7 linked regions of the Homo sapiens genome follow. The protein of the gene in region 5 purifies or fractionates together with the protein of the main gene of each other region. This does not show direct contact. Each region holds a gene or a part of one and is shown on either strand. Other genes may lie near its edges. The genes, in order: ACVR1, OMA1, LRRC8A, UGCG, KCNK18, PCNX3 and PPP3CB.

The links.
Region 1: the proteins of KCNK18 (region 5) and ACVR1 purify together in Homo sapiens (affinity purification with mass spectrometry; one large-scale study listed by BioGRID and IntAct). This does not show direct contact.
Region 2: the proteins of KCNK18 (region 5) and OMA1 purify together in Homo sapiens (affinity purification with mass spectrometry; one large-scale study listed by BioGRID and IntAct). This does not show direct contact.
Region 3: the proteins of KCNK18 (region 5) and LRRC8A purify together in Homo sapiens (affinity purification with mass spectrometry; one large-scale study listed by BioGRID and IntAct). This does not show direct contact.
Region 4: the proteins of KCNK18 (region 5) and UGCG purify together in Homo sapiens (affinity purification with mass spectrometry; one large-scale study listed by BioGRID and IntAct). This does not show direct contact.
Region 6: the proteins of KCNK18 (region 5) and PCNX3 purify together in Homo sapiens (affinity purification with mass spectrometry; one large-scale study listed by BioGRID and IntAct). This does not show direct contact.
Region 7: the proteins of KCNK18 (region 5) and PPP3CB purify together in Homo sapiens (affinity purification with mass spectrometry; one large-scale study listed by BioGRID and IntAct). This does not show direct contact.

Annotation. Positions count from the first base shown.
Region 1 is NC_000002.12:157,778,831-157,782,330, reverse strand, and holds part of ACVR1 (activin receptor type-1 precursor), read left to right. Parts: intron 1-1,730; coding exon 1,731-1,994; intron 1,995-3,500. UniProt on the Homo sapiens protein: Bone morphogenetic protein (BMP) type I receptor that is involved in a wide variety of biological processes, including bone, heart, cartilage, nervous, and reproductive system development and regulation.
Region 2 is NC_000001.11:58,529,727-58,533,226, forward strand, and holds part of OMA1 (metalloendopeptidase OMA1, mitochondrial precursor), read right to left. Parts: intron 1,004-3,500; coding exon 875-1,003; intron 1-874. UniProt on the Homo sapiens protein: Metalloprotease that is part of the quality control system in the inner membrane of mitochondria. Activated in response to various mitochondrial stress, leading to the proteolytic cleavage of target proteins, such as OPA1, UQCC3 and DELE1.
Region 3 is NC_000009.12:128,888,633-128,892,132, reverse strand, and holds part of LRRC8A (volume-regulated anion channel subunit LRRC8A), read right to left. Parts: intron 67-3,500; exon of another isoform or gene 1-66. UniProt on the Homo sapiens protein: Essential component of the volume-regulated anion channel (VRAC, also named VSOAC channel), an anion channel required to maintain a constant cell volume in response to extracellular or intracellular osmotic changes.
Region 4 is NC_000009.12:111,899,814-111,903,313, reverse strand, and holds part of UGCG (ceramide glucosyltransferase), read right to left. Parts: intron 1-3,500. UniProt on the Homo sapiens protein: Participates in the initial step of the glucosylceramide-based glycosphingolipid/GSL synthetic pathway at the cytosolic surface of the Golgi.
Region 5 is NC_000010.11:117,203,989-117,207,488, reverse strand, and holds part of KCNK18 (potassium channel subfamily K member 18), read right to left. Parts: intron 1-3,500. UniProt on the Homo sapiens protein: K(+) channel that conducts outward and inward rectifying currents at depolarized and hyperpolarized membrane potentials, respectively.
Region 6 is NC_000011.10:65,632,776-65,635,357, reverse strand, and holds part of PCNX3 (pecanex-like protein 3), read right to left. Parts: intron 1,280-2,582; coding exon of another isoform or gene 1,233-1,279; coding exon 1,002-1,232; intron 821-1,001; coding exon 717-820; intron 386-716; coding exon 238-385; intron 141-237; coding exon 1-140.
Region 7 is NC_000010.11:73,440,525-73,444,024, reverse strand, and holds part of PPP3CB (serine/threonine-protein phosphatase 2B catalytic subunit beta isoform), read left to right. Parts: exon of another isoform or gene 1-236; intron 237-3,500. UniProt on the Homo sapiens protein: Calcium-dependent, calmodulin-stimulated protein phosphatase which plays an essential role in the transduction of intracellular Ca(2+)-mediated signals.

The sequences.
Region 1 (3,500 bases), on a different chromosome or scaffold from region 5:
GTCTTTGCTCTTGGATGAGCCCCTTGTGGTTTTCAAAGGAACTAGCAAGTCAATTATAAATAGAAGGCTGTGTCTGTGTGTCTGCATGCACTTACTCTGTGGGACGAGGCACCCACATTACAGTGGGCAGTGAACTATTTTTCCACTTCTTTGAAGAGGGAAGAAGAAAGATTAAGAATGCTTTTCTCTTTTTGAGATAACCCACATCTCTACACACACCCACACAAATCTGTGTAAATGAACTTGACATTTTCAAAGACCTTACCTTAAGGTCTCCTCTGGAAAGCACAGCCACCCAACCTGTTATTTTAAGAAAGAAGCATTTATCTCCTAGACCCACTACTGAGGGTTCAGGGATTAGAAGGCAGCCTCTATGTGCCATAGACCTTTGGAGGGAGCTCTGAAAGCTGAATTTCCTAATATGAACAGTGCTTCGGCAAAAGTGGCCTCAGCTAACTAATCAGTGGCCTCTAGGACTTGGCTGTTTACATTTTATCCTCTGTTTCCTTCCCCACTAGTAGAAACTGTGGGACCAGCAAGTCTAAACTAATCATACTGACAAGGGAAGAGAAAAGAGTAATGTGAAAATGCAGATGCAAATAAGTATTCTCAGAAAGAGACAATTAAGCAGAGTGATTAGATGTGCTTCCCTGATCATCCGTTTCTGCCTCTTTCCATTGCACCTTGAACTCCCTAGGTGTGTATTCTTCCAGTGGTCCCACCTGTCACCTTACTGTTCAAACATTATTCGGTTCTCTTGGTCTCCTTGTGCCCTCATTCTCCATATTTGGCACCATTTTTTTCCTGCCAGCCAAAAATTCTTAAGCAGGTGTTAATTCCCACTATAATCTATGTAAACTTTAGTGTTACCACTAGTGAAAAAGTTAGTCTAGGCATCTAGCTGGAAATATTGGTACCATGGATTGTAATTATAGATTGTACAGCCTTGCAAACTCTTATTATATTACAGGTTGAACATCTCAAATCCCAAAACCTGATACTTGAACTGCTCTGGAATCCAAACCTTTTTTAGCATTGACCCAATGCTCAATAGAAATGCTCATTGGAGCATTTTGAATTCTGGATTTTTGGATTTGAGATGCTCAGCCAGGATAAATACAACTATTCCCCAATCCAGAAAAATTTTTAAATTTGAAACTTTTCTGGTCTCAAACATTTCGAGTAAGGGATACTCAGTTTGTAGTATATTTCTGCCATGTACCTGCAAGAATGTCAGCATTCCTTGTTTTACGAGTTGATGGGGATTTGTACAGAGCTAGCAAAAATTAGTATTAATAGCTGCCATATATTTAGGAGCTTTTTTTTTGGAATAGAATAAAGGTGATAAACATTATGTTCCAGTAAAACATTTTATTTTGATGCAGTAATTGGGATCTTAGAGCCAATCACGCTGAAGGTTATATGAACACCACAGGGGGAGAAGCTCATTTTCAGAAGTCTGTGGACAGATGATAGCCAGTCTTTGTCCTAATATGATCTAAAAGGGTGCACAGCTTATATAAATGAATCGCTATGTTGAGAGGCAATTATTATTTGTTGGTTGGTTAGGTGACAAGGTGACAGAATGTGGACCTCATGGTTGATGGTGATGCTTAGCTTGACTTTCTGTTGATAGAGGTGTTTGGAATGGTCATTCCCTCAATGAAGGTGAAACTCATACGGTAATTCCTCTTTTTTTTTTTTTTCCCCTTCCTTTCTCTCCTTTGCAGATGAGAAGCCCAAGGTCAACCCCAAACTCTACATGTGTGTGTGTGAAGGTCTCTCCTGCGGTAATGAGGACCACTGTGAAGGCCAGCAGTGCTTTTCCTCACTGAGCATCAACGATGGCTTCCACGTCTACCAGAAAGGCTGCTTCCAGGTTTATGAGCAGGGAAAGATGACCTGTAAGACCCCGCCGTCCCCTGGCCAAGCCGTGGAGTGCTGCCAAGGGGACTGGTGTAACAGGAACATCACGGCCCAGCTGCCCACTAAAGGTTCCCATGGACTTTTCTATTTCTAGATCAAGGGGTTTTGTTAGTGTTGTCCTGGGTCCGTGTGGGTTAAAGATCTAAGTAGCTATGAGGCATTCCACCTACATTTTGAATCAGAGGCGAAGAGCTACAAGGAAGGTCACCCTGGGTGAAGAAGAGAAAGGAACAGCCTTTTGGCATCTAAAAGAAGGATGGGCATTTTGGGGAATGTAAGCAAGGTGATGTCCATCTTGGGGACAGCTTAGCTGACCAGTTAGCTTTCTCTTGGTTGCTGTGACTCAGGTGAACAGCTCCCAATACCTTTTTATGTTACTGACCCATGATGTCATTCATAATTTCTGAAACAATTCTGCTAGTAAATACTCATCTCTGTGTCAAGTGTGTAGGGAGGAAAACAGAACGGACTGGTGACTGAGTGGAATGCCTTTCCTGTTTTATGAGGAAGGAGATAAAAGAAGGCTCACTGACCTCTTCTCCCATATCTGATGCCCAGTGACCCTATCACTGAAATTTGAAGCAGGATGAGATTTCGCACAAACCCTGTAGTTTTTGTGGAATCTTCTCTCTACCATCAGTACAGATTGCATATGCTAAGGAAACCAGTCCAGCTCTGAAACTGTTTCCCTATTAAATGAGCCCTAAATTGCAATCTTAAAGTCTCTGCAAACATTTATGTAAACTCATTCCAAGCCAAATTTATTCTCTTACCATATAGTACATTTTTAATAGGTTTAGTTATTTAATTTTGCACTCAGAAAAAAGAAACAAACCAAAAAGTGGAGGAGAGGTAACGACGAGCATCCAAAACTAGAAATGTCAGCCAGCAAGAAAGGAGGCAGAAGAACAAAAAAGCTGATGCAAGATCATGTTCTAGTAATTTTGAAGTTATGGTGATGACTTTAAGGCATATGGAAAAGGTTAAATTCTGACAAGCAAATAGGATTGAATAATCAAAGAGGGTTTTAAAGGAGATCAAGTATTTACATGGTTAAAACTAAAAGGGTCCTTGATGGAATAAAATTTACTGTTATACTTTGTGAGTTAAATTTTTATTAATTGGGTGGATGGACATAAACAAATGTCTGAATTCATACAAACATTATTATACCAACTGTGAAGTTTCTAATCTGCAGATCACTCTGCTAGACCTTGAGTTTTAATAGAAGATTTTTTTTTTTGAATTTAAGGACATTCTAATCTGATTAGCGTGGCCACAGTATTTATAATTCAGCGTTGCATTTTGTTAGTTTTACACTTTCTCATGCAAATGACATATGCCATGGAGTATGATGTATGCCAAGCTGTTGATTAGTTGGGCTTGGAAAGTTAAACAAATACGTAAAGGAAGTTAAGCTTGTGATTGGATGGCTGAAGAGACCAGTAATATGGAAATGGGTAAGGCCTCTGTAGGGAAGAACAGGGCCTGATGACATAATGTCATGGAGAGGTCTGAACCCAGGGAGTGAATCAGTGAATGAATGTCTGAATAAGCGAGTAAATGAAGAGAGG
Region 2 (3,500 bases), on a different chromosome or scaffold from region 5:
TACGAAAAAACAATTTAAAAAACTACAACTTAAAAATATATATAGTAAAATAACTATTTACATAGCATTTACATTGAATTACAAGTAATCTAGAGATGATTTAAAGTATATGAGAGGATGTGCATAGTTACATGCAAACACCATGCTTTTATTTTTATTTTTATTTTTTTTTGAGATGTAGTCTCACTCTGTCGCCCAGGCTGGAGTGCAGTGGCGCAATCTCGGCTCACAGCAAGCTCTGCCTCCTGGGTTCACGCCATTCTCCTGCCTCAGCCTCCCAAGTAGCTGAGACTACAGGCGCCCGCCACAACGCCAGGCTAATTTTTTTGTATTTTTAGTAGAGACAGGGTTTCACCACGTTAGCCAGGATGGTCTCAATCTCCTGACTTCGTGATCCACCCACCTTGGCCTCCCAAAGTGCTGAGATTACAGGCATGAGCCACGGCGCCCGGCCAATACCATGCCATTTTTTATCAAGGACTTGAGCATACTCAGATTTTGGTATCCACAAGAAGTCCTGTATACCAAGGGACAGCTGAATTTGGGAGTCATTCAGTTACTACGAAAGGAAGGGTCAGTGGCTGGGTTTTCTCTCTGTAAAACCAATAAATATATTTTCAAAAATTTTATTAGCCAAAAGTTGCCAAGCCCTTCTAACTCTCCATACCCATCATTTGAGAGATGTAGTATTCCTTAATTTAAATATTCATATATAAGAATATCCCCTAAAAACGAGAAAACATAAGACACTAAAAATTCGTACCCATATTTCATAGTAAAATGTAAAAACATCTCTGGATTTGCTGCTTTACAGTAGTATTAAAATATCTTCACCAGAGGCTATGATCAATTCAAGTTATTGTCTCAGACTTACCTCCTGCAATTTAGACTGTATCCACTGGCACAAAAGTGCCAAGCTATCTCGAGGACAAATGGCCCAAATCATTGTGAGGAAAATCATACCTAGGAAATCCAACAAATGAACCATGCCAGCCTTTTCTGCCTAAGAATAATCAAAATAATAAAAACTACATTTTATACATTGAGACAGTATATGCTTACATTTTCTAGTTCATCATGTGTTACAATTACCTGACCTTCTCCACCTAAGACTGAGAGTTCTCTTTTTCTTCTTTTGCTTATTCTTTCCGGGTCTGTTTTTCCCTTCCTTGGTTTATCTACTTATATACCTATTCATTCATTTAACTAGTATCTACTAAGCCACTTACTATTAGTCAGAGGATATAAACCTACAATTTCTTATATTAACAGGCATAATAATCTTGTGAAATAGCTACAATTATCCCTACATTTATAGATAATGAAACTGAGATAGAGAGAGGTTAAGAGTTGCCCAGATTTGCACAGCTATTACTAAAAGGACCAGAAATCAAACCCGGTCAGTTTTAGTTTTTAATATAGTTGCATCATTTTAAAAAATCAAGTAAATGTTTTATTTTACTAATATTTTTGGATAAAGACTAAACACTACCTAACATATGAAGCACTTAAAACAAGAAAAAATTCAGAAAAAGACTGGAAGTTTATTTTAAATAAAAGTATTCTGATCTTCAAGACCTAATATATGAAATATTATTCATTTATACAAGTTTGTAAATTTGTAAGTCTAGTATTTATCATGAAAGAATCAGGTTCTATGAATTTTTGTATTTACTTATATCAGTTACCAAAAAAGATTTTTCATAAAATAGTTGTTTTGAGTAGTAATATCTAAGTTTAATGAACTAGATTGTTCATGGTTTGCCATTAAAGGTGATTAGTAAATGTTAATGTTGTAATGCTGAAACTGATAAAATAGCAGTCATTACTTGAATGTATGAAAAATGACTGAAAACTAAAAACTGACTTAGAATATTGTCCCTTAACAAATATTGTACCCTCACAAAACATACTTTACCTCCTTATATTTGCCTCATTACTTTGCCTCAAAACACAAATGTGTGTTTTGAAAAACAATTATGGATTTATCTTTTTTTTTTTGAGACAGAGTCTTGCCCTGTTGCCCAAGCTGGAGTGCAGTGGCGAGGTCTCGACTCACTGCAACCTCCGCCTCCAGGTTCAAATGTTTCTCCTGCCTCAGCCTCCCGAGTACCTGTGATTACAGGTACCCACCACCATGCTCAGCTATTTTTTGTATTTTTAGCAGAGATGGAGTTTCACCATGTTGGCCAGGCTGGTCTTGAACTCCTGACCTCATGATCCACCCACCTCAGCCTCCCAAAGTGCTGGGATTACAGGGGTGAGCCACTGTGCCCAGCCCAATTATGAAATTATTTTAACATGAAAAAGTGAAACTCAAAATAAGGAAGTTGTTATAGAAGAGAAAGCCCTTGTTATTAAAGAATATAATTGCTATTATACAGTCTTAGAAAACTGGAAATACACACACAAAAACCTGTATTTGTAGAATAAAGAAAACATAAACGCCTAGATAAAATCAAAACTGAGACTCCCAAAAGAGAAAATATTGTGCTGACAATGTTTAAGATCTCTGCAAAAACATATTAATAACTATGTTCTATTTTTAAGGCTGCTGTTTGCTTTTTACACCTCATCTACTACTGTTCTTGCACTGATAGAGATGACAATACACTGAATATAAGGCACTGAACTAGATGCCTAAAAAACAAATGTACTGAATAGTAACACCTTTCAAATGCTAAAATGGCCAAAACTGATTTTGCAGTTGTGAAGCCATTACTTGAAAGATATTAGAGTGCATATAATAACACTGCTTAGACGTATTCTTGTGTATATTTGTTTAAGAAAAAAAGATTTTTTTTCTTACTTTTTTGTTTGAGACAGTGTCTCACTCTGTCACCCAGGCTAGAGTGCAGTGGTGCGATCATGGCTCACTGTAGCCTTGATCTCCCAGGCTCAAGCAATCCTCCTGCCTCAGGCTCCAGAACAGCTGGAACTACAGGTGTGAGCCACCATGCTCAGCTAATTTTTAAAATTTTTCTGTACAGACTGAGTCTATGTTGCCGAGGCCAGTCTCAAACTCCTGGGCTCAAGCAATACTCCTGCCTCAGCCTCTCAAAGTGCTGGGATTACAGGTATAAGCCACTGCACCCAGTCAAGAAAAATGTTTTTAAAATCTTCCTGTAACTCAAAAGAAATCAAGGAGATAATTACTTTCAGTGTTTCAGAAAAACAATTTAGCCCATCTCATCTTATTAATAGTCTAAGGAACAGGTAGAATTTGAGATTACTCTTAGAAGGATTAGAATCATTATCATTTCCATTTGAAGTTAATGTTACTTGTATTTCTGATTTAGCATTTCAGTCACTTCACTATGTACCTTTGCGTTTACAATTTAAAAAATACTTTCTCTAATGTAGACAAAAGAGCCATTTATATTTTTAAATGAATAACAATTTAAAAAATGTGTGAAACAGATGTGTTATTTTTCCTGGACTTATATCAAGATGAACAGACATGTATTCACAGGAGCATACATCAACTTGAATTCTATGAT
Region 3 (3,500 bases), on a different chromosome or scaffold from region 5:
CTTCACCTCGCTGGGCTCTGGTTTCCTCATCTGTAAAATGGGTTGACAAGTCTATTGCTTGGAGGGCTGTGATGAGGACAGAAGGAGACAGTCCATATAAAGCTTTTGGACTAGTGCCTGCCATACAGTAAGGCTCTGGAACGTTCACTGCTGTTATTATTATGGTAGAGTTTAAATCAGTCCTTTTATGGGTGTGATGTCGGAGGCCCAGAGAAGTTTGGTAACCTGCCCAAGGCCACACAGCTAGGAAGAGCTGGGAAGATGCACCCCAAGCCCGACTTTCCATTGTGCCAACCTGCCTCAAAGACAAGCAGGCCTCCCGGACCCACCTGGGACCCAGGCCCTTGAAGATACTTCTTGAGACAAGATACTCTTTTCCTTAGGGGGTACATGGAAACCAGGGCTCTACAGGGAACCCCATCAGGCCATACTCAGATGCCTCTGGTCTCACGGGTACTGCTATAAGGAAGCTCTGGAAGGGAGCCTAGCCCTGGGTTTAGGGCCAGAAGGCAGTGTTGGGTCTGGGCCCTGGGGGCAGAAGGGCCTAGAAGGCAGGCCGTTTTATTTTTTTTGAGACAGGATCTTGCGCTGTCGCCGAGGCTGGAGCACAATGGTGCGATCATGACTCACTGCAACTTTGAACTCCTTGGCTCAAGCGATCCTCCAGCCTCAGCCTCCGAGTAGCTGAAACTACAGGCATGTGCCACCACACCTGGCTATTTTTAAAAATTTTTTGTAGAGATAGGTTGTTATGTTGCCCAGGCTGGTCTGGAACTCCTGGGTTCAAGCAGTCCTCCAGTCTCAACCTCTAAGTAGCTGGAACTACATGCACATGCCACCACACCTGGCTAATTTTTTTTTTTAGACGGGATCTCACTCTGTCACCAGGCTAAAGTGCAGTGGCACAATCTCGGCTCACTGCAACCTTCGCCTCCCGGGTTCAAGTGATTCTCCTGCCTCAGCCTCCCAAGTAGCTGGGATTACAGGTGCATGTCACCATACCCGGCTGATTTTTGTATTTTTTAGTAGAAACGGGGTTTCACCATGTTGGCCAGGCTGGTCTTGAACTCCTGACCTCAGGTGATCCACCTGCCTCAGCCTCCCAAAGTGCTGAGCCACTGTGCCTGGACTAATTTTTTTTTTATTTTTGTAGAGACAGGTCACTATGTTGCCCAGGCTGGTCTGGAACTCCTGGGCTCAAGCAATCCTCCACCTCAGCCTCCCAAAGTGCTGGGATTACTGGTGGGAACCGCCACGTCCAGCCAACGTTTGTTGGCTCATATTTGCACATGGAGTCACGGCCACACACGGTTTACAGGTCTTAACCTGTTATGAATACCAGCGCTGCCTTCTTAGACAGGTTATGAAATGTGGCCACCAGTACCCTAGAGAGGCAGCAGACACATCTTCTGCTGAGATCCCAGGGGAGTGGGCACTGGCCAAGCCCTAGGTGAGCCAGGGGGAGGACTGGGGGGTCTGACAGAGGGTGAGCTGCCTGGTACCCGACTCTCTGGGATGGAAGGGGGCTACCCCCAGGGATCCTGACTCATGGAGTCAGCTGGGAGATGCGAGGTGTCCCTTCAGGGCCAGGATTCCCGCCCACCGCCCCCGCTGCTGGTCAGTGCGTTTGTCATGCTGCCCGTCAGAGGGCGCAGGTTTGGCAGTGGCACTCTGACGGCGTCCAGGTGGCACGTGAAAGCTATGGAATTTTACAGCCACTTTTACTCCACTGGAACATTGCTCTAGGCGTGAGGCTTAGATTGCAGCAAGCAATTTAATTTTGAGGTTTTAAGCCCTCAAGAGACGTTTAGATGTAGACAAACTTGCTGCAAGACGCAAGACGCAACAGAAACGCATCTGGAAGACAGCAGGGAACATTTGTGGCTGGGAGTAAAAGCCCTTCTAGAAACCTCAGCCCCACACGTCCTTGAGGAGGGAAGGTTAAGCCCCTCGCCTTCCCAGCACACACACACACACACACACACACACACACACACACACAAAATGAAGCCACTAAAAAACAACTGTCTGGCCAGGTGCGGTGGCTCACACCTGTAATCCCAGCACTTTGGGAGGCCGAGGTGGGTGGATCACCTGAGGTCAGGAGTTCGAGACCAGCCTGACCAACAAGGTGAAACCCCGTCTCTACTAAAAATACAAAAATTAGCCAGGCGTGGTGGTGCACATCTGTAATCCCAGCTACTTGGGAGGCTGAGACAGGAGAATCACTTGAACCCAGGAGGCAGAGGCTGCAATGAGCCAAGATGGCACCATTGCACTCCAGTCTGGGCAACAGAGCAGGATTCCATCTCAAAAAAGTAAAATTAAATTAAAAAAATTGGCCAGGCGCAGTGGCTCACGGCTGTAGTCCTGGAACTTTGGAGAACAAGGTGGGTGGATCACAAGGTCAGGAGATCGAGACCAGCCATGGCCAATATGGTGACACCCCGTCTCTACTAAAAATACAAAAATTAGCTGGGCATGGTGGCGGGCACCTGTAGTCCCAGCTACTCGGGAGGCTGAGGCAGGAGAATAGCTTGAACCTGGGAGGTGGAGGTTGCAGTGAGCAAGATTGTGCCACTGCACTCCAGCCTGGGTGACAGAGCAACACTCCATCTCAAAATAATTAATTAATTAATTAAACAAAAAAAAAAAAACCTGTCCAGTCCCAGTCCTGTGGGGAGCTCAGCCCTGCTTCCACACCAAGGGCATGAGTTCTGCGGTAGACGACTGGGACTAAGGCTGAAAGAATGGCGTCCGGTCAGTGTTTCTCAGCATTGTTTGTAGCCCACCAGCCTCACAACTGCTGGGGAAGCATCTTCAAAGTTCAGATTCCTGGGGCCAACCTTCCAGGGCAGACTCTGCAGGTCTGTGGTGGTGGGCCCAGGGGAACAGCATTTTAGACAAGCTTCCAGGTGACTTTGAAGGCCCCCAAAAGCCTGGGAACCTGAGAAAAGAGGGTAATGGAGGGTGAAGTAGAAAGAGCCCCAGCTGCCAAGCCATACCAACCTGGGTTCAAGTCCTAGCTTTGCCACATGTACACTGTATAACTTTGGGCCAGAGACCTCATCCCTCTGGGGCTTGGTCTGTAAAATGGTAAAGCAACCTCACACGCAAGGCTGTGGCGAAGGTAAGATGGGCAAATGCGTGCAGCATCCCAGCCTGTGGCTCAGCACTGAGACATGGTGCTGAGAATGACCACGGACTATGAAGGTGCTACTGCAGGAAGGAGAAGCCAGAGACGCTGAGCACCATCTGTGGAGGGGCCAGCTCTGCAGCTCTCTCCCAAGCAGTGTATGGGAGAGAAAAGAGACTCCTGGGGAAGAATGGAGGAAGTGACGTGGGGGAGGGAAAGCGACAGGACAGTGAGCCTGAAAAACACAGGTGAGATGTCAGGAGCTCTGGCACAGACCTCACTCCCAGCGCGATCCTGCCAGACGCTCTCGCAGCCCCGCAAAACGAGGCTGCCACGCCTGTATGCTCTCCTTGCCCAAACCCTT
Region 4 (3,500 bases), on a different chromosome or scaffold from region 5:
GGATTACAGGCGTGAGCCACCACGCCCTGTCTGTCTCATTTTTAAATAACTTCTTTTACAGTTCTGTTTTCAAATTTGGCTTTTGCAAGAGGGAAGCCTGGGATGCAGGGAAACCCACTGGAGACAGGTAAAGGTTAAACAAGGAGGGTGGGCTCCTTCCCCTTCAGATGGCGGGAAGCAGCCTCTGCAGCAACCTTAATACAGCTCCTCACAAGTGAGGCACAAGAATTTCACTCGGCTGGGTACAGTGGCTCATGCCTGTAATCCCAGCACTTTGCTGGGCTGAGATGGGGGAATCACTTGAGGCCAGGAGTTCAAGACCAGACTGGCCAACATCATGAAACCCCACCTCTACTGAAAGTACAAAAATTAGCGGGGTGTGGTGGCACGTGCTTGTAGTCTCAGCTGCTTGGGAGGCTGAGGCACAAGAATCACTCAAACCCAGAAGGCGGAGGTTGCAGTAAGCCGAGATCGCACCACTGCCATCCAGCCTGGGCAACAGAATGAGACTCTGTCTCAAAAAAAAAAAAAGAGAGAATTTCACTCTAGGTTTCTAAGGAAGAATATGAATTCCACAAGGGCAAAAGTTCACCTTGCTTAACAACCCCAGAATGTGTTGTTTTTATAATTCCGCTGTGTGGTTCTGCTGAACCAATTTATCTGACTCTAGGAATTTATCTTCCCTGCTCCAAGTCACAAAGCTTGTTAGTATTTCGTGTAAAATTAGGTTCACTGCTATATCAGCAAGTCCCTAACTTCACATAGTCCATGCCAGCAATTTCCAGTGACTAATGACCTTTGTTATTGTTATCACTCATGACTATATTACTGTTTGTTTATAATCAGTATATCATGACCAATTTACTACCTGTATCACTTATTTCAAAAATGGTATTGCTTCAAAATGGGCTTCATAAGCAATATAAAGCACACCTTCTTGTGCAAGCTTAACCTTGCTAACACAAATTCTCTCACAGAAGGTAAAATAACCAATAGTGAGTTAGCTCTATAGGAAAACACAAACTCTGCCCACTGGACAATGGGCTTACTACACTATAGAATGTAGAAGATTCCACCACCATAGAAAACAAATAGGAGATGGCTGGGTGCCATAAGGGGCACCTAACCCAATAAGGAACTAAAGTCTAAAATGACTTGAACGAGTAGGAGTTAATTAAGCAAGATTTTTGGAAGGAAAGAAGGAAGAGAAAGAAAAAAGAAAGAAAGTAAAGACAATTCCAAAGAAAGCACATTGTACATTTGGGGAAATGCCAGTAATACAACGTTGCTGGTTCAGCTCCTACAGAGCTGTGCTTGTCTCATTAAGGAGTTTGAACTGTAACCCGGAGGCAATGAGGATTCATGGTAAGATTTTAAGCTACTGTGATCCAAGATTAGTAATCCAGAAGGATAAAGGCTACAATAAGAAATATAAAATCGAGGGGGCACAAGGCTGCAGCTAGAGATACCAGCGAGTAGACATAGCTTCAACATCTAGGATAGATATGAAGGTGTGCTGAACTAACTAATGTCAGAGAGAAAGGCAGGGATAATGAATCAATAGAACCATCACTGAATACTAAAATCTTGCAATTTCCACTTTGCTCTTTTTCTTTTCTTCAACTTTTAAGTTCAGGGGTACATGTGCAGGATGTGCAGGTTTGTTACGTAGGTAAACATGTGCCATGGTGGTTTGCTGCCCAGGTCATCCCATCACCGAGGTATTAAGCCCAGTATCTATTAACTATTCTTCTTGATGCTCTCCCTCCCCACACTGCCCCTCACTTTGTTCTTTAAAGCTATCACACTATAGTCTAATTCCGTATCTTCCCAGGCTCAGGTTAAAGGGGCTGAATTGCTGGACTGCCTTATTCATTTCCCTGAAAGTAGCCCTGTAGCAATGATCCTGACTGATGAACGTTTGACCACAGTCCAAGGGCATTGGCAGGACTAAACCCAAAAAAGACGTTCTCAATTTACATTCCACTAAGGCTTGGAACACCAAGTATTCATGAATTTAAGGCAAAGATCGTACTAACTAAAAATAATATCCCAAATGCTAAAATTTACATGAAAAACATAACCAGTTTTTGACGGGTAGTTTATCGCAGTTATCCTGACACAATGAGTATGCAAATTCCATTCAAAAACTGTGCATCAGGTATTGAAGTTGCTGTACATTAGAGATAGCATATTTGGGTTGGGCGCAGTGGCTCACGCCCGTAATCCCAGAACTTCAGGAGGCCAAGGTGGGGGGATCACTTGAGCCCAGGAGTTTGAGACCAGCCTGGGTGACAAAAATTAGCTGGGCGTGATGGCATGCACCGGTAGTCCCAGCTACTTGGGAGGCTGAGGTGGGAGAATTGCTCGAGCCTGGGATGTGAAGCCGTGATCGAGCCACTGCATTCCAGCCTGGGCAACAGAGAGGACTGTCTCAAAAAAATAACAATAAACAAAATAAAGGAAATACGTTTGTAGAAAGCAGAATTAACTTTAAAAAAAACTTAAAAAATCTCCAGGGGGCCAGGCATGATGGCTCACACCTGTAATCCCAGCACTTTGGGAGCCAAGACAGGTAGATCACTTAAGTCCAGGAGTTCAAGACCAGCCTGGGAAACATGGCAGAACCCTGTCTCTACAAAAAGCACAAAAATTAGCCAGGCATGCCTGTAGTCCCAGCTACTTGGGAGCTACTTAGGAAGCTGAAGCAGGAGAATCATTTCAGCCTGGGATGCGGTGGTTGCAGTCAGCCAAGATCGTGCCATTGCACTCCAGCCTAAGCAACAGAGCAAGACCCTGTATCAAAGAAAGAATACACACACACACACACACACACATATACATATACACCTCCAGGTAAAAAAGGACCTCTGTTTTACTTGAGGGTAGCTAATATTTAAGGACACATAAATTATTTCCACACTAGCCTAGCACCTCCAGTCGAAAGATAAAGCCTGATGATAAACATTAGGACCTTATGTACACAGGGAAATAATAATAATATGAGGTGGATGGGATAGGGAAGAGAGCATGAAGCAAGGTTTCTGCTTAGATCACTTCATCACGCAGCAACGTGGCTCCCAAGGGCTAGAAGAGAAACACTACCATCAGGTCTAGGCTTTTATACAATTTCACCTTAGGCCCCAACCTATCAAGCCACACTAGCACTTACCATTAAAAAAAAAAAAAAAAATTAACCCATAAAGGCTATTTAACTTGCCAAGGCTATACTCTTTAGTTATTTTTAGGAAATCTTCAATCTCAACAATAAGACTCTTGAATTTGAAATGTCTCTAATCTGAATGTTACCTTTGACATTGTTGGCAGAAATCCTACAAACATCTGCCATCTAAAATAGGTTAAGAAAGGGCAATAGAAGCTTTGAAACATACCCAAGTATAAAGCAGAATTTAGTTTATAATAAAAATATTTCAAAACAGTGGAATAATCAAATAATCATCTGATAAGTAATTCTGGACAAGTCTCTAAATATTTAGAAG
Region 5 (3,500 bases):
ATATGGGATACGATCTCTCTGAGCCTCTGGTTTGGTAAAAGAGGCAGACATTAATTTTAAAAACCACACTAATGAGTATGTAATTACAAATGGAGATCAATAACAGGAAGTGAAAGAGCAGACCATTCCATGAATGATTAGAACAAAGGCACCTATCCTAAGCCATGCGCAATGGCTCACACCTGTAATCCCAGCAATTTGAGGGGCCAAGGCGGACAGATCATATGAGGTCAGGAGTTCAAGACCAGCCTGGCCAACGTGGCAAAACCCTGTCTCTACTAAAAATACAAAAATTGGCCAGGTGTGATGGCGCATACCTGTAATCCCAGCTACTTGGGAGGCTGAGGCATGAGAATCACTTGAACCCAGGGGGCGGAGGTTGCAGTGAGCTGAGATCGTGCTACTGTACTCCAGCCTGGGCAACGGAGCGAGACTCTGTCTCAACAAAAACAAACAAAGGCACCCATCCTGGATTTGGGCCCAGGAAAGATTTTTCCTGTGAGGGGATTTTTGAGCTGATGTTGGGAAGGGGTCACAAACTAGCCAGGTGAAGAGAGAGGAAGCAGCCTGTGCAAAGACCCTATGGCGGGTTCAACAAAGGGTTATCCATACAGTGACAGTGGGGCAACTTGTGTACTGCACATATACCAAGGGGGTGACTGGGAGCTGAAACCTAGCCTCCGTGCACTTACCAAGCTTGGAGCTCAGGGCTCGGGGCACTGGGCTGTGTCTGCCTAGTGAGGGATATGGTTTTCTAACTTTTCACCAAGGTGTCACCCTGAGTGTAGCTGTCACCCAGCTTTAAGGAACCAAGAGAAGGCCAGTGTGTCTAGTGTGCAGGGAGGTAGGGGAGGGGAGCAAGGGGAGGCCGGGAGGTGGGCAGCATCTAAGGGCTTCCATGGCAGATGGGGGAGTGCCTTGATCAGTGTGGAAGGCTGAAAAATGACAGCCCCCAAATATAGCCAAGTCCTAACTCCTAGAATCTGTCAATGCTACCTTATTTGGTAAGTGGGTCTTTGTCGATGTGATTAAGGATCTCAAGATGAGGAAGTTATCCTGGATTGTGTGTGTGGCCCTAGGTACCATTACAAGTGTCCTGATAAGGGAGAGGCTGAGCAAGATATTTTACACAGAGAAGAGGAGGTAATATGACCTCAGAGGCAGAGACAAGAGTGATGTGGCCACGAGCCAGGGGATGCTGGCAGCCACCAGAAGCTGCCAAGGAAGAGGCAAGGAAGGGTCCTCTCCTAGAGCCTTAGAGGGAGTATGGCTCTGCCAACACCTTCATTTTTGAAATCAGTAAAACTGATTTCGAATTTCTGGCCTCCAGATTGTGACAGAATAAATTTCTATTGCTTCAAGCCACTGAGTTTGTGGGAATTTATTACAGCAGCCACAAGAAACTAATAAAATCAGGTTTGTATCTTTTTTTTTTAAGATGAGATCTTGCTCTGTTGCCCAGGCTGGAGTGAAGAGGCGTGCACGACCTTGGCTTACTGCAACCTCCACCTCCTGGGTTCAAGAGATTCTCTTGCCTCAGCCTCCTGAGTAGCTGGGACTACAGGCACCCACCACCATGCCTGGTTAATTTTTGTATTTTTAGTAGAGACAAGGTTTCACCATGTTGGCCAGGCTGGCCTCGAACCCCTGACCTCAAGTGATCTGCCCACCTCAGCCCCCCAAAGTGCTGGGCTTACAGGAGTGAGCCACCACTTCTGACTTGGTTTGCATCTTGAAAAAATCATCCTGACTGCATCACAGACAGTAAATTGTAGGGCTTCAGATAGACGCAGGACAATGAGTGGGGATGCTATGCTTCCTGCCCAGGTGAGAGATAAAGGGGGCTTTGGCTGAGGTGGGAGCTGAGAGGAGAGACCTGTAGGGACTGGCAGAAATCTCAGCAGGACAGGAGGATGGTTTGGATTGGAGTGCCTGAAAGGAGCTGGGATTTGAGCACAGAGCAGGCACTGTGAATCCACCAGAATCTACTGCTGTCTTTGGCAAAGGTGGGTTTACAGGATTATAAACAAAGCCTTTTTGGCTGCCTCTGGGTGAGATACTTTTGCAATCCAAAATATGCAATATGTCACATTCCTGAAAAAGTTTAAAGGAAGCAGGTCTCAGAGAGCACACAACCCCCACAAAGGGAATGTATTAACTATTCTAATTACTGAATGCCAAAATGCATAATGGAACTCATTATTTCTTAGAATGCATTCATATATTTTGATACAATCAGTTCACTGCACTTGGCCTGTGAGTACTTAACAGCTCATGCACTTTCCTTTCTAATCCAAGAGGGATGACCCAGTTGGGAATGACGGGATTGACCGGCCTCACAGCTGTCAGGTATCCTGTGCTTAGCATTAAGGCCAGGTGCATTTCAGATGACCCAGAGATGCAGGGCAGGAAGCAGTATTACCAGAGAGACTTTCAAACACCGTTATTGATTATGGACAGTGCGGAACATTCCCCAACATCCTCTTCCAGTTGTTTGTAATTACTGGGCGGCATGATGTCCTAATTGACTCGTACAATGGGCAGTAGCATTGCCTTCTTGGAATTTAAGCCAAGCTAATGCATTTCCATTAGATCAGTGACTCACAGCCTGGACTCCCACTAGAATCACCTGGAGGGCCCTGGAAAATACTGATGTCTGGGCCTGGTCCCTAGGGATTCTGTTTGTTCTAGGGCAGGGTCCACACATGGGAGCTTGCAAAAGCTCTGCAGGTGACTCTGACATGCAGCCAGGGCACGCTTCTCAAACATTAGCACACATCAGAATCACATGGAGAACTTTCTAAACTACAGATTGCTGGGTCCCACAGCCATGGTTTCTGGCTCAGTAGGTCTAGAATGGCTCCTGAGAATTAATTTGCATTTCTATCAAGTTCCCCAGTGATGTCGATGTTACTCAGGGACCACATTTTGACAACCATTGCAATAGATCATTTCTCAATAGCGGGCAATTTTGCCCCCCAGAGGAAATTTGGCAATGCCTGGAGACTATTGTGGCTGTCATAATGGGTAGGGACAGTGGGGAAAGTGCTATTGCATCTGGTGGGTGGAGGCCAGAGATGCTGCTCAACATCCTACATTGCACAGGAGCCTCCTCTGCAGAGAATTATCCCATGCAAGAAGCTGATAGTGCTGAGGTTGAGAAATCCTGCCTCAGATGCATCTGAGGTTTTTTTCTTTTTTCTTTTTTTTTTTTTTTTGAGACTCTGCCATCCAGGCCAACTCTTGTCACCCAGGCTGGAGTGCAGTGGCGCGATCATGGCTCACTGCAGTCTCAACCTCCAGGGCTCAAGTGATGCTCCCACCTCAGCCTCCTGAGTAGCAGGGACTACAGGTGCACGTCACCACGCCCAGCTGATTTTTTTATTTTTTGTAGAGATGAGGTCTCATTGTATTTCCCAGACTGGTCTCCAACTCTCACCTGATCCTCCCAAAGTGCTGGGATTACAGGCATAAGCCAGGGCACCTGGACCAACCTAAAT
Region 6 (2,582 bases), on a different chromosome or scaffold from region 5:
AGGGAGGGCGTGTTGCTGAGGATGGCGCTGCGCCATGCTGGGTCACCCTCATGTGAGATGACCAGCCGCTCCTCGTTGGCCGCAATGGCATCGTATAGGGCTGCTGGCTCCTCATATTCATCTGGGGACGTGAAGTGGTCCTGGTAGAGAAGACGGGAACAGGGGTCAGTGGCCCCTGCCCTGGAGAGAGGCTTCATCCCCCACCTGCCCATGCTGCTGGGCACACCCCTCCCCAACCTGGTGAAGCTTGAGGGCCATGCGAACCCCAGGCGCCACAACGCGGTGAAGCAGGTCCATGTCGGCAAAGACCCACTCGTCACGTGGGGAGGTGATGCGAAAATCCCCCTTGAACAGGGCGTGCAGGCCGTAGAGGAAGGGCTCCAGGCTAAGTGGGAGGAAAAACAGGGAGGGGAGAGAGGGGTGTCGAGGACCCAGGGGTAAGGCTTCAGAGTGATCCAAGCAGAGGCCTTTCCTCACGCTGAGCCTCAGTTTCCCCATCTTGACAAAGAGGCCAATCTCTGCCCATGTCTCTCACAGAGCACTGAGGAGCAGGCAAGGTCATGACCAGGAAGTGCCCTGCCCGTGGGAGAAGAGGTACCCCAACAGGAAGGGCCACTGCAGTTTCTGTGGCCACTGTGGCCAGAGACCACAGTGCTCTTCGTGGAAGAGGTGGGGTGGGGACGGCAGTAGGCCCCGCGGGACACCCGAGCACTCACCTTGCAGACATGCTGTGAGAGGCTGTCCCCAGGGCCCGGCGGCCCAGCACACACAGGCCAAAACACAGCGTGACCAGCGGGGAGTTCCAATCCTGGTCCACGGGCTGTGGCATAAGGACCCCCATCCCAGAGCCCAGCTCAGACCTGGGACAGGGACCTTGGAGTGGGGGCTGGGGCTCAGGCTAAGGGAGGCTCAGAGTGAGAGGAAACCAAATGGGGAGAAGGGGAGCAGGGAAGCCCAGGTCCCACAGCCCCAGGTGGCAGCCTCAGGTAGTGGAGCCTGACCTGGCTGCGCCGGGAGGCGCAGTACTGGATCCACTCGAGGTGCACAGCACAAAAGGAGGGCAGCGAGAGGCCAGACAGGCGGAGGTCATAGTCCTCATCCACACTCAGCGAGAAGGTGGGATCCGAGTCGGCATAGCCGGGCACCCGCACAGGCCTCAGGGCTGCCGTGATGCCCTCATGGCTGAGCCACACCTCCAGCTTTGGTGAGCGGCTCACGTAGTAGATGATGCTCTGGGAGAGGAGGGGCAGGCGTCAGGCCGGGGTCCCGGCCCTGGCCACTGGAGGAGAAAGCATGGAGGTTCAGAGGCTCCTCCCCAAGACTGAGCTGAAGTCCGCTTTCTGGGATGCCCCGCTCCTAGAGCCATCTCAGCTCTCAAGAGCAACCAAGCAAGTTGGCTCCTTCCCCTAGACCAGGGAGGAGTGACAAAGCCGCCAGGAAGCACCCACTTACAGAGCAGGAAGTCCTGTGCTGGGGCTAGCACTCACAAGCAGCATCTGCCTGCCTCTGCCCTAGAATATGCCCCGTTTGTATGAGAAATTGAGGCTCAAACAAATGGCAGCCCCCAACGAGAACAAGATCATCACACTCAACATTTACCACCTCAGCTTCCAAGTCATCAAGGTGGAGCTGGCCCCACCTGCCCTGAACCCTGTCCCCCACCCGCCTCTGGCTGGCCCCGACACTATGGTGTGGCCCTCAGGTGAACCTTCAGTGCCTGTGCAGCACGTGGGCCAGGTAGCAGCAGGAGCTGGTGTTCCTGCACAAACATAACCCCGAGCGCGGGAGCATCCAGATGTCACATGGGCAGGGGGCGGGGAGCGAGTGGGGCAGAACAGACTGAACTGCCGCCTGAACCCCGGACCTTCCCCATCATGACATTGTGGGATCCAGATCTCGGGGCCGGAAGGGCAGGCTGAAGTAGTGGGCCTGCCTCAGAGTGCCTGGGTCACAGGTCCCTTTAGGCAGCTGAAGCATGACAGCCATCAGGCCTCGCCTCAGAAAAAAGCCACGGGCACATGTGGTACCCAAAGCTGGGGGCTCCTGGACCTCTTGTTAAAAGGCCCTGTTGGGCAAAAGTACAGGAGCTTTGGAAGACAGGTAGCTGGCATGGCCAGGATGCACGGGCGGGTTAAGGCCGGCAGGGCAGCCAGTGAGGTGATGGGGATTCCATGTGCCACCCTAAGATGGAGCTAATGGGGCAGGCCCTTTGCCAGGGCAGACCCGCTCCAGACTGACTTTCTTGCCCATAGCTCGCCTCTACAATCCAGGCACCACCAGAGCTGCTAAAAAGACCCAGAAAAGAAAAGCTTCAGCCAGACAGGGTGGCTCACACCTGTAATCCCAGAACTTCGGGAGGTGGAGGTGGGAGGATCGCTTGAACCCAGGAGTTCAAGACCAGCCTGGACAACATGGCGAAACCCCATCTCTACAAAAAATACAAAAATTAGCCAGGCATGGTGGTGCATGCCTGTAGTCCCAGCTACCTGGGAGGCTGAGGTAGGAGGATTACTTGAACCTGGGAGGTGGACACTGCAGTGAACCCAGATGGCACCACTGCACTCCAGCCTGGGTGACAGAAT
Region 7 (3,500 bases), about 44 Mb from region 5:
AATTACTCCATCAGACACTTGTCTGTCTTGCAATGTAGAAGCAGCTTTGTAGCACCTTGTTTTGAGGTTTGCTGCATTTGTTGCTGCACTTTGTGCATTCTGAACATGAATGTAACATTAGATATTAAGTCATTGTTATAAGGGGTTGAATTTAAATCCTGTAAGTCAAAATTGAAAGGGTGTTATTAAGTGTGCCTTTATTTTGCATGAAAATAAAAAGAATTATACGTAAAGCATTCCTGTAATCTGGCTCATTGAATATTTTATACTTAAAAAACTTTTTTTGGCGTAAATATTTGTGTAAATACTGGGTTAACTTTTTAAAAGCCCATTACAGATTAAATAGAAGAGAGTGATGTGAGTATTAGTGACCATACACAGTAATTCAGTCTAGATTTCTTTTCCTGTGGTTGGAAAGCAAAAATACATGATGTGGAAAAGCCTGAATTTCTTGTAGTCACTTTTGACAGCCCTCTAAGGGTCATTGTCTATTAAAATAGCAACAGATCTGATGTTTTCCTTAGTCATAATTAGGTTTCTTTTTGGTGTTGTAATTAGTGACTTTTTTAGAGGGAAAAAAATAGGCAATTTTAACGTTTTGAATGAATTTACATTTGACTTCACAATTTCATTTCACTTGGTTCCATAATAAGTGCTCTTTTTTTTTCTTTTCTCTCTTCTCTTCTCTTTCTTTTTCTTTCTTTCTTTCTTTCTTTCTTTCTTTCTTTCTTTCTTTCTGTCTTTCTTTCTTTCTTTCTCTCTCTCTCTCTCTCTTTCTCTCTCTCTCTCTGTCTTTCTTTTTTTGTGTGCATGTGTACATGTGTGTGTGTGAGAGAGACAGACAGGGTCTGGTTTCTTGCTGTGTCACCCAGGCTGGAGTGCAGTGCAGCCTCAACCTCCTGGGCTCAAGCAGTCCTCCATTTCAGCCACCCAAGTAGCTAAGACCATAGGCACATGCCACCACAGCCAGCTAATTTTTTTTATTTTTTTTATTTTTTATTTTTTTATATTTTTGTATTGCCCAGGCTGGTCTCAAACTCCTGGGCTCAAGCAATCTTCTGACCTCAGCCTCCCAAAGTGCTGGGATTATAGGCATGAGCCACTATGCCTGGCCAATGATTGCTTTTCAATAAAAAAAATTTTTTTCCTGTAAACAATTTTTACTTGTAGCCTATACATGTTCTATTTTAAATGTCATTGTATTGTTCACTACCACCACTGGTATATCTGAAAAGTACACTGTGTTTTGAAATTATAAATTTTCATTCTGAATGAGGTTTCTTTTTTTGATTTTCTTTAAAAAAAAAAAACAACCTGCTTTGATTTGCTTTACATTCCTTGCCCTCCATTTTTCTTATTATATTGTAAACATTAGAAAAATGAACTAAAAAGAATTTCATGAATGTACATTAAAACAAGATCTTAAACATTTGATAAAACTAGTAAAAATGTTAATAGAAAAGGATGAACTTTAATAGCTTCAAAAATATTATACTCTTCTTTGTTCAGAAAAGAAAAATAAAACCAAAAGGGTATCATACTTAAATAAATCTACAGTATAGTCATCTCTCAGTTATCCTTGGATATAACATTACTTTTATATTGTATCCGCAGCAAACCTTGCTTTCAGATTTCACGATTAGCCCCTGCTAATTACATGCTTTGTTGACTTCTGTTTATTCTTAATTTGTACACGGCTTGAAGCTCATTCCTTCAACTTTGAAACCACCCTCAACTGCAGGGGAGGTTTGAAAGACAGCAGCTTTGCTGGAGGGACTCTCTATTCTCAGCATGGACTAAGTTACTGGAAGGAATTGAGTTTAAGGGGTCTAATTTGGGACCCCTTAAACTAGATAGCTTCTAGTTTTGCTAGCTCTTGATAGTGTGGTTTGGGCATTTGGTCAAAATTATTTTCCTAGCATAAGATAAATCCACTTTGAAACAAATAACAAAGGTCATACAAAAGCTGCATGTTTGTGATTATTTTTTAAAAAGTTATCCTACATTTTAAATTTTAGTAGATAATGTTCCCTGATGTTAGTGTGTATAACTGAGAGTTAGGTATTGCAAAAGGAAAAAATTTTAATTCTAAGACCTCGTGCCTATTTGTCAGAAAATAAAAATTGTCGTTTCAAGAACTTTAAAAGTTAATTTACATGATGTTTCTTGAGTGTTTTTACAAACTGCACAACTCTATTGGAGGTGGATTTTCTGTTCATCTTTATTTTATGTATGTTTTCTTTCTGGGAAATTTGATTGGGAGCTAGCACTGTAATGCTACCCTCACCAGGATCTATATGGGAAATATATGTGGCCAATTCTATGTTAGTAATACCAAATTCCTCTTGGTCATTTATCTTGCATAGTACTGAGGAACACAGTTTGAGATAGCACTATGCTCAAACTTATTAAGGCCATGACAAGATGCCCTATATAACTGAAAACAAATAGAGGAGAAATAGTGCCTTTCAGATAGAGTGTTGCAATTAGCAATCTGGGCTCAAGTGATCTTCCTGCTTCAGCTTCCCGAGTAGCTGGGATTACATATGCACACCACCATGCCCGGCTAATTTTTTAAACTTTTTTTGGGGGGAGATGAGGTCTCTCTATGTGTTGCCCAGGCTGGGCTCAAACGCTCAAGGGATCCTTCCACCTCAGCCATCCGAGAGTGCTGGGGTTATAGGCATGATCTTCCATGTCCTGCCCGATTTGTAATGTAGTTTAACAGTTAAGGAAAATTAACTCTTCCTTTATTCAGTGTTCGTCCTAATTCTTTTGGGTCCCCAATTCACTTTACTGTCTGGTTAAGATCAACATTTTCTAACTTAGTTCACTTTAATACCTTAGATTCATCAGTTTCTTTTACATTAATAATTGCTTTGGATAAAATTATTTCTAAATCATGTTAATTGCTAAAAGATCACTTCAGGAATAATTATTCTAATTGGCCTTATTGCAGAAGAAGCAAAATAGGAGAGACCAGGGCATTACTTTTACAAATATTCTGAGTAATAAGGGGAATGGACAATATTGTAAACCAGTATTGTTGTGTGCTATCTTGAGTCCTGGTCCTCAGTGTGAGCTCTTTATACAGTTCAAACCCAGAAATGAGCGAAAAAAAGAATCTTTGACTATAAAATGTTTGACTAATTATGGTGAAATTCTCTAAATGGACCAGTGACACACTATACCAATAATGTATTTCTTATTTATAATATGACCTATGTGTCTATATCATGAAATAATTAGAATTTATGCCTGTAAGACCTCACTTCTCTTCCTTAATGTCTCTTTAATTGGTAGATGAGTTTGAAAAGATGCTCAGTAGTCTTTTTCTGAGGCAAATTTGAGTTCATGATAAACTCTGTCAGTATAAATGGAATTTTTTAAGGCTATAGATGTTAGTATCTGTAGGTATTTGGAACATCAGTACTAGAATAGAAAGGAAGTTACTGGTAGACAGGAGAAGTCCTTTCAGGTCCCCCACAAAGAACAGAGCC